Homo sapiens: one gene and its partner. The protein of the gene in region 1 purifies or fractionates together with the protein of each later gene. This does not show direct contact. Each region holds a gene or a part of one and is shown on either strand. Other genes may lie near its edges.

Region 1 (5,173 bases):
GGGCTAATGAATTTTCTACTTCACTTTGTTGTCTATCGATTAACTAGTTACTGTCATAATAAACAGTCTTGATTTGAAATTTGAAGTTTTTATCTGATATAATGAGAAGTTTTTAGTCACCATTACAAATCCTGGTCAGAGTGCTATGTTCCACATAAACCTGTAAAATGGAGCAAAGTTCAGGCTCCCCCACAGGCTTCACCAATGCCAGCAGTACCACTGAATGGCTACTTCTGAAGAAAATGTTAAAAACAAAACTTTCTCCTTGCCTCCTATGTGTCAAAGTGGAATTCAAAATTCTATGTCAGCACATTCTATAAGTAAAACAAAAACCATTAAGAACCCTATCCTCTGCAATCCCTCTCCTCTTCCGCAATAACAAAAGGTGAAATCTCTATTCAAAGTCCATTCTGCAATATAAAAACAAAACAAAAAAACCCCCACAAAATCCAAAGGAAAGTCATAAAGTACAGCAGAACACAAGGTTTGGTCTTGATACTGGCTTGTTCTTAGATAATTCAGTTAACCTTTGAGCTTCAGATATTTCAGTTAAATGAAGATAAAAATACAGTATTCACTTCACGGAAGTTGCTACAAGGAATAAAATGTGATATATACATATAGTGCTTAGCTTAGTATATAGTAGCTCAGGAAGCAAAAAATCAAAACAAAGAACACTACTTCCAGTTCACTTCCCTACCCAAGAATATGGCTGTGAGTGGCTGGAAAGTATTCCTATCAAAGTGGCTTCATCCTGCCTAGCTCTGGATCATGCTTTGTCTGAAAGATCTTGAGAACAGACTGAGCATGATTAGACAGAACAGCCATAGAATCGACCTGGCTTTTAGAACACCTCATAGAGCTAAGGTAAAGAGAAACCTCTTGAGACGGAGTCTCGCTCTGTCACCCAGGCTGGAGTGCAGTGGCGCGATCACGGTTCACTGCAAGCTCCGCCTCCCGAGTTCACACCATTCTCCTGCCTCAGCCTCCAGAGTAGCTGGGACCACAGGCGCCCGCCACCATGCCCAACTAATTTTCTTGTATTTTTAGTAGAGACAGGGTTTCACCGTGTTAGCCAGGATGGTCACGATCTCCTGACCTCATGATCCGCCCATCTCGGCCTCCCAAAGTGCTGGGATTACAGGTGTGAGCCACCACGCCCGGCCAAGAGAAACCTCTTTGTATTACCAGAGAGAACACATAGACCAGAACCAAGTTCTGTTGAGGCCTGTGTGCCATATGGGCCACAAAAGACATGCTTAGAGATATGGAGCTGAGAATTTAAAGCCTCTGTCATGTTCCTTGTTCAGTTCCTCAAGTGGTCCTAACAATTCTACTCCCATCCCATCTCCAATTTGCCTAACATCTGCACCTGAACTGTGCAAAGCACTTTATATACATTATCTCATTTAATCCTAAGAAGAATTTTGGGAGTAGGTGCTTTTAATCTCTTCCCTTAACCAGTGCACAAACTGAGTTTCCGAGGTTAAATACCTTCTGCAAGGTCGCACATATATGACAGAGCTATTGCTTAAAACTAGTTTAGAACCTGAGCTCCTTGTATCCAACCTGGATAATAATAATTGGCAGATAGAAAGCATGGAGAAAATTCTCAAATGACAATCTTCAATCGTTATTAAATTTTATCTTGAAATTGCATTTCATTTTTTTTTTTTTTGAGACAAAGTCTCACTCTGTTGCCCAGGCTGGAGTGGAGTGGTGTGATCTCAGCTCACTGAAACCTCTGCCTCCTGGGTTCAAGCGATTCTCCTGCCTCAGCCTACCGAGTAGCTGGGACTACAGGCGTGTACCACCATGCCTGGCTAATTTTTTTATTTTTAGTATTTTTAATAGAGATAGGATTTCACCATGTTGGCCAGGCTGGTCTTGAACTCCTGACCTCAAGTGATTCGCCCACCTCGGCCTCCCAAAGTGTTGGGATTACAGGCGTGAGCCACTGCACCAGGCCAAAACATTCTATTTTCATGATTTCTTACTTAATGCTAATACTCAACACTATAGCTATATACACATTTTTTCCTCTATAATTTTATTCACTTGGATCGGAAAGGTAAGCTTAACAAGACAGCATGAAAACATAATGTAAAAATAAGAAAATATACTTACTATGAAATCATCATAAAACAAAGTGTGACTAACTTGCAGATGTCTTATTAAACTGCCACTGAAGCTGCTTGGATTCTCATCGGGTATTAAACGGCAAAGTGGACAGAACTGGAAACAAACAAGACCAGGGGTTCAAGAAAGAATTTAAAATCGTTATTAGTGTTAGAATTAAAAACAACGGCTGGGCGCGGTGGCTTACGCCTGTAATCCCAGTACTTTGGGAGGCAGAGGCGGCCGGATCACCAGGTCAAGAGATGGAGACCATCCTGGCCAACATGGTGAAACGCCGTCTCTACTAAAAATACAAAAATTAGCTGGGCGTGGTGGTACGTGCCTATAGTCCCAGCTACTCGGGAGACTGAGGCAGGAGAATTGCTTGAACCCGGAGGCAGAGGTTGCAGTGAGCCAAGATCACACCACTGCCCTCCAGCCTGGCGACAGAGCAAGACTCCGACACACAAAAAAACAAAACAAGACGGGGTGCAGTGGCTCACACCTATAATCCCAACATTTTGGGAGGTTGAGGCGGGTGGATCACGAGGTCAGGAGTTCAAGACCAGCCAGGCCAAGATGGTGAAACCCTGTCTCTACTAAAAATACAAAAATTAGCTGGGCGCAGTGGCAGATGCCTGTAATGCCAGCCACTCAGGAGGCTGAGGCAGGAGAATCACTTTAATCTGGGAGGCGGAGGTTTCAGTGAGCCGAGATCTTGCCATTGCACACCAGCCTGGGCAACAAGAGCAAAACTCTGTCTCAAAAAACAAGACAAAACAAAACAAACAATAACAACAAAAAACAACAACAGGTAACCATTCAAAAATAAACTGTCAACTTTATTCATCCATTAGCCATACCTCAGTATTATGTTATAAAATTGCATAAACATGAAAGCAACATTAAGCAAATAAAATTACATGTCTTCATATGCATTTCTTGCTCATATGCATACATAACAATATAACTATTTGTTTCATATTCATCAATTTATTATTTAAACAATATTACAATTAATACATGTACCATAATTTACTTAATTAGTTTGCCTACCTCTTGGAATACTTGTTTGTATATGGATATTTTACTATCACAAATGAGAATAACTATAGTGTTTACCTTTTAGGGGATTAGTTCCTTAGGAGAAATGACCAGAAATGGCAATTACCAGGTCAACAATTATGAACGTTGGCCAGGAGCGGTGGCTCACTCCTGTAATCCCAGCACTTTGAGAGGAGGCCAAGGCAGGTAGATTACTTGAGGCCCAGAGTTCAAGACCAGCATGGCCAACATGGTGAAACCCTGTCTCTACTAAAAATACAAAAATGAGTCAGACGTGGTGGTGCACACCTGCCTGCTATCCCACCTACTTGGCAGGCTGAGGCAGGAGAATTGCTTGAAAAAAGATTTCACTAGGTTTTGCCTGTACTCATATTTTTCAGTGTGTGTGTGTGTGATATAGTTTGGAAACTTGTCCCCACCCAAATCTCATGTTGAAATGTAATCCCTGGGTGTGGAGACAAAAAAATTAGCCAGGTATGGTGGCAGCACCTGTAATCCCAGCTACTCAGGCAGCCGAGGCACCAGCTCTGTCTCAAAAAAAAAAAAAAAAAAAAAAAGAAAAAGAAAAAGATTTCACCAGATTTTGCCTGTACTCATATTTTTCAGTGTGTGTGTGTGAGATATAGTTTGGAAATTTGTCCCCGCCCAAATCTCATGTTGAAGTGTAATCCCTGGGCGCCGTGGCTCATGCCTGTCATCCCAGCACTTTGGGAGGTGGATCACTTGAGGTAGGAGTTCATGACCAGCCTGGCTAACATGGCAAAACCCATGTCTACTAAAAAGACAAAAAAATTAGCCAGGCGTGGTGGTGCACACCTGTAGTCCTGGCTACTCCAGAGGCTGAGGCAGCAGAATGGCTTGAACCCAGGAGGCAGAGGTTGCAGTAAGCCGAGATCGCACCACTGCACTCCAGCCTGGATGACAGAGTGAGACCCTGTCTCAAAAAGAAAAAAAAAAGGACTTGATGGATTAAAAAAAAAAAAAAGATACAGACCATTCTGTCACTGCAAAGGAATGTCAGTGCGTTGCTATCCTTTATTTCCTTCTCTCTCCCTAACCTCTGCTCTGTTCCCCATATTATTATTATTACTATTTCGAGAAACTTATATAAATAGAACTATACAGTATTTAACCTTTTGAGATTGGCTTTTCCCATTGAGCATGACTTTGAGATCCATCTAAGTTGCTGGGTGTATCCATAGCTCCCTCCTTATTACTGAGTAGTATTTCATGTATGGATGTCCCACAGTCTGCTTATCCATTTATTTTGTAAAGGGCATTTGGGTTGTTTCCAGTTTTTGGTTGTTAAGATAAAGCTCCAAGAAATATTTGTGTACAAATGTTTGCATAAACATTAAGTTTTCATTTCTCTAGGATAAATTTTCAGGAGTGTGATTGCCTGGTTATATGATAAGTATATGTTTAACTTTGTAAAATATTGCCAAACTGTTTTCCAGAGTGGCTGTACTATTTTACATTCCCACCAGCAATGTATGAATTATTCAGTTTTTCTTTATTTTCCCCAACATTTGGTATTGTCCAAATTTTTTTATTTGAGCCATTTTGTTAAACGTGTACTGGTATCTCACCATGGTTTTAATTTGCACTTCTATGATGGCTAATATAAATAACTCTTTTAACATATATTACTTTATCACATTTTAACAAAGGTTCACTTTTTTAAAATTATATTTATTCATGTATTCTTCTTTTTTTTTTTTTTTTTGAAATGGAGTTTTGAGTTTTGCTCTTGTTGCCCAGGCTGGAGTGCAATGGCATGGTCTTGGCTCACTGCAACCTCCGCCTCCTGGGTTCAAGCAACTTTCCTGCCTCAGCCTCCCAAGTAGCTGGGATTACAGGCGCCCACCACCATGCCCAGCTAATTTTTGTATTTTTAGTAAAGACAGGGTTTCACCATTTTGGCCAGGCTGGTCACGAACTCCTGACCTCAGGTGATCTACCCACCTCTGCCTCCCAAAGTGCTGGGATT
Region 2 (4,336 bases), about 31 Mb from region 1:
AGTACCAAATGCAGCTTGACATTTAGTAAGTGCTCAAGAAATTCTCATCCCCTTGTTAGTGATTTATCAAGCTACCTTAATGTTTAGCTACATTTAGTGTCAGATTTCATCTTCGCTCATTGAGCAATCGCACCACACCAAATTTTTAGGCTTGTAGGGCACAGTCATCTGTAGTTAGATCTTTGTTGAATTATTTAAGAGGATAAACAGATGCAAATCTAGATTAAAGACATTCAAACAAGTTTATACTCTTCTCAGGTACCCAGAAGCCCAGTGAAATTTGAATATTATCCCCCAACAGTAACAGATGTGACACCTACTTCCAGGAAGCCAGGCAAGAACTCATCCTGTTCTGAATATGAATGGTATACCCTTTTGGAAAGGCTATGATGGGCAACATGAAGTAGTAATCAATGACATAAAATATTAAATAATTCACGTGTTAAAATTTTCCAAACTCTTGCAAATCATAACCAATGACTAGACTGGTTTTTAGAATTTTGTGGAAGAATTTAGAAAAAAAAATAATTATTTTCAAATGATCAAGGAGTAAAGAAAACTAACAGCACGTTTCTTTTCTATGCTTACTATTGATAATTCAGAAAAACTCTGGATGCTTAGTCATTAATTTCCACTGGTCAATATCTTATAAAACTTGTTTTATTTATACACTAGCTACATAAGTAGTTTATATTTTCCATAAAGGCCATCTCTCCATTTTAGAAAGTTTTCCTTTGAATTTCTCTACACCTAATGTATTTGTAGGGTCATGGTTCAGATAATATTGTTGTCTGACAACAAGTTAGAAAAGGAAGATAAAGGGCTCAGTAGGAGAACCAGGTCAGAGAGGGGTCCTCGTTTGTCCTTAAGACATGTCAGTTCCTGGAGTTTGACTCTTCCTAGCTTTCTCCTAGTTGCTCCACACTTTTTGCCCTATCCACTGACCCTCATGTTTACAGTCAGTAACATAACACGATTGTAGAGTGCTAGAACCAAAAGTAACATCAGAACATGCTTTGGCTAAGTTTAAAAAGTTTTGTGTTTTCAGTTGTAAAATATGTGTGTCAATAATCAAATAATAATTCTCATCCCTACCACACACCTACTGCAGGAAAGCAAAAACTTTGAAGTAGCTTAGAGCACATTTTGCAAATCCTATGTAATAACTTAGAAAGATTTTAGAATAATGCAAAAATTCAAATATAAGAAATCATCTAAGACAATGTGTATATGAAGTAAAATACATTTCTGCTTCATGGTCTTCTAGTATAGAAATTTGAATTGAAAAGTGTGAGCCAAGTATTGCTTTGAGGGCTCTATAAAATTGGAAAGAGCAAAGAAAATATAAGCATATTAAGTTAAATATTCAATGTAGTTAAAAGCATAGCATTTGTTTTAAAAATATATGCCACTCTTTTCTTTTCCCTTTAATCTATCAATGATGATTTTACTCTGGATTCCAAAATGGCACTGGAAAAGTTCCACAGAGGGAGGGGCAAAGTTGATATATTTCCATTCCCGACAGGGTGTGGAGGGAAGCTTACCTGACCAGCTGTTAGCAGCAACTCTGAGGGCAAGAAGGTAAATGCTCGAATTGCCTGATATAATTTTTAACAATGAACACTGAATTGGAAAACCATTTTAAAGGATAGAAACCCAGAGGAGATGTGATTGAAATAGAAGGATATACTTGTTTTTATTAAGTCAAATACTTAAAAAAAGTGAGTTAGTTTTATGATGTTTTGGATTTTCTGCAGATGTGGCAGTCATCACTGGGAGATATTAACAATGCTTGTCACCTCGCTCAGCCCCAACCACCTGGTCAGATGCCTGATGTATATGATTGATTTTTTTAAAATGTAGATGTTTGAATAACTTTTTAAACTTTCACATACTTGACATATTGTATTTTATCTTTTAATGAATTATTTCTGAAACATAAGATGGTATAATATTTAGAATATCTATATTTTAAACAATGTGAGTTAGATTTTTTTTTTTTGCACCATAAGTTGGAAAACACTTTCGATGGTATTGTTCACAAGTATTTCTTTGTTTTTAGATATTGGTTATTATTTAGTTTGCTGTAACCTGGTTTGAATATTTGTTCCAGCAGAATAGCATCTATTTGTGTAAAGTTTGAATTTCATTCTTGAGTTGTTAGTAGCTTTGTGGGAATTATAGAAATTATAAGACATGAAATATTTTTGGAGTATAAATATTTTTCTTCCTACTATATATAGGAAAAAACAGTTTTACTCAGAATATTTTGGGTTGTTAGAATGTCTATCTTGTCTAAACCTTTACATTTTTACTATAAGGGAAAATTGTAATAAATGAACTTTTTCTTATACAGTAAATGAATTTTTTTTATATTGCAGTAAGTGAACTTTTTCTTATATAGTAAAAAATTAATAAAAAGCTGATTCTCTTATGCAGAATCTCTGTTAATTACAGCTTCCTGCAGGATATATAAAGTTAATATGAAATGCTAAATAGTCTTCTAACATTTCAAACATTAGGATTATCTACAATGAAAAATGGGCAGATGACAGCAAATCAATCCATAAATATTATGAAGGGTTCTCATGTGCTACCATTGTGTTCTTCACGGATGGGTACAAGGATGAATTAAAAACACTGAACCTACCTTCAAGACAATTATGATTTGGAAGTAAAGACATCAGTATAAAAAATAATTACCTTACAGTGTGATAGAGGAGTTAAGGGAAACAAATGTTGTATGGTTATTGTATACAGTGGTGACTAATTAACTCTTTAGAGGGAGAGGTTGGAGGAAAGTGGAAGAAGGTTTTACGTGTGTAACAAAGCCAGAAGGAAAGAAAACAAGCAAAATAGATCATTTGTTGATACCTCAAACACCATAAAAATGGAAAAAAATACCTTTAAAAAATTAAAAATGTTACACATTTCAGATAGTCAGTATTTAAAAATGTATCTTCAAAGCTAACAATGTAAGTTAAAATCTTACAGGAAAGATTTTCTTTCTTGTAAAAAATTGAAAGTAGATGAGGTTTTAAAATTAAGTTGAAAATACATTACCCTCAAGGTTTTGAAGTGATAGAAGAGAGTGCCAGAAAATATTGACAATTTTCAGTAAATAAGAGTAAAAACAATTCTATAATAACAATAAAGAAAATAAAGGAAGGTAAAACAGGGGAAATTTTTTTAAAGAACAAGTTTGAAAAACATAAAATGTTTATATAATATGAAGAGTTCATAATGATCCATAAATAAATGATCAAGACCTCAATAGATAATTGAAAGATGAACAAGAGACAGTTAATATGTGAGAATTTATAAAGAGAAAAGAACACATGGAGAAACATTCAAATGTTAGCAAGTATCAATGCCATGTAAATTTAAAAATAATACAATTTTCTTTTTATTTTTTAAGTTATTAAGAATGGCAATAATATCTGAAAAAGGTGATTATGATATAGCAGTTTCATCTGTAACTTTTGGCTGACAGTATGAAAGTTAAAAATCTTTATAATATTTGACCTAGAAATCCCATGTTGAAGAAGATACTCTGAAGAAATAATATGAAGGGAGATAAAAGCTATATTTATGACAATGTTTATCGTAGAATTATTCATATTAATAAAAACTGGGAAGCTAATTTAAGTATCTAGCAATATGATGTTAGTTTAAACATTTAGATAAGTCAGTATAATGAGATATTATAAGGCCATTAAAAGAACATCTATGAAGACAGTATTAGGATAAACACTTAAGATGCAATTTGAAGTGAAAACAAGTGAACATAAAATGTTCATATAAACAGGCACGTACACACACATCAATGCAGTGATTGAGAGATTGGAAAGCACACGGAAAAATAAAGGCGATTTATTTTTCAGTATTGTGAGGGCAAAATTCCTCATTACTATTATTCTGCCATCTGTATAACAAATTAGACCTTGAGAATAAAATTCCTTCTTCTACTTCATTAGAAGTTAAATCGTGAATCCCTTACTTGGAAAATATTATAGGCAAAAATATGATAGTATTTGTATTGATATAAAATGAATTTTTTTCTTTTTCTTCTGACTAAGAACTGCTTATCTTCTCTTTCCTATATAGCTATGGTCAGTAGGAGGTGACATTGTGGATAGTACATGGGAGCTATCATGTAAGTCACTCCCAATTAGGCTACGATTGTTTGCAATCTATTTAGGATACATTTGCACAGATTTCAATGCAATTTGAGAAGGATTTTTTGAGTAATTTTTCAGTCTAGAGAAGCAACCCCCATAAAGATTGTAGGAATCTTTGGAGGACAAACTGGAGCTTGAGATGTGCCTTCCAGAGA

What was found. The genes of interacting proteins can lie anywhere in the genome.
Region 2: the proteins of RNF125 (region 1) and SERPINB12 purify together in Homo sapiens (affinity purification with mass spectrometry, with the first as the bait; one large-scale study listed by BioGRID). This does not show direct contact.

Annotation. Positions count from the first base shown.
Region 1 is NC_000018.10:32,062,964-32,068,136, reverse strand, and holds part of RNF125 (E3 ubiquitin-protein ligase RNF125), read right to left. Parts: intron 2,236-5,173; coding exon 2,128-2,235; intron 1-2,127. UniProt on the Homo sapiens protein: E3 ubiquitin-protein ligase that mediates ubiquitination and subsequent proteasomal degradation of target proteins, such as RIGI, MAVS/IPS1, IFIH1/MDA5, JAK1 and p53/TP53.
Region 2 is NC_000018.10:63,545,369-63,549,704, forward strand, and holds part of SERPINB12 (serpin B12), read left to right. Parts: intron 1-258; exon of another isoform or gene 259-362; coding exon of another isoform or gene 363-365; intron 366-1,532; exon of another isoform or gene 1,533-1,581; intron 1,582-4,135; exon of another isoform or gene 4,136-4,156; intron 4,157-4,336. UniProt on the Homo sapiens protein: Inhibits trypsin and plasmin, but not thrombin, coagulation factor Xa, or urokinase-type plasminogen activator. May play a role in cell differentiation.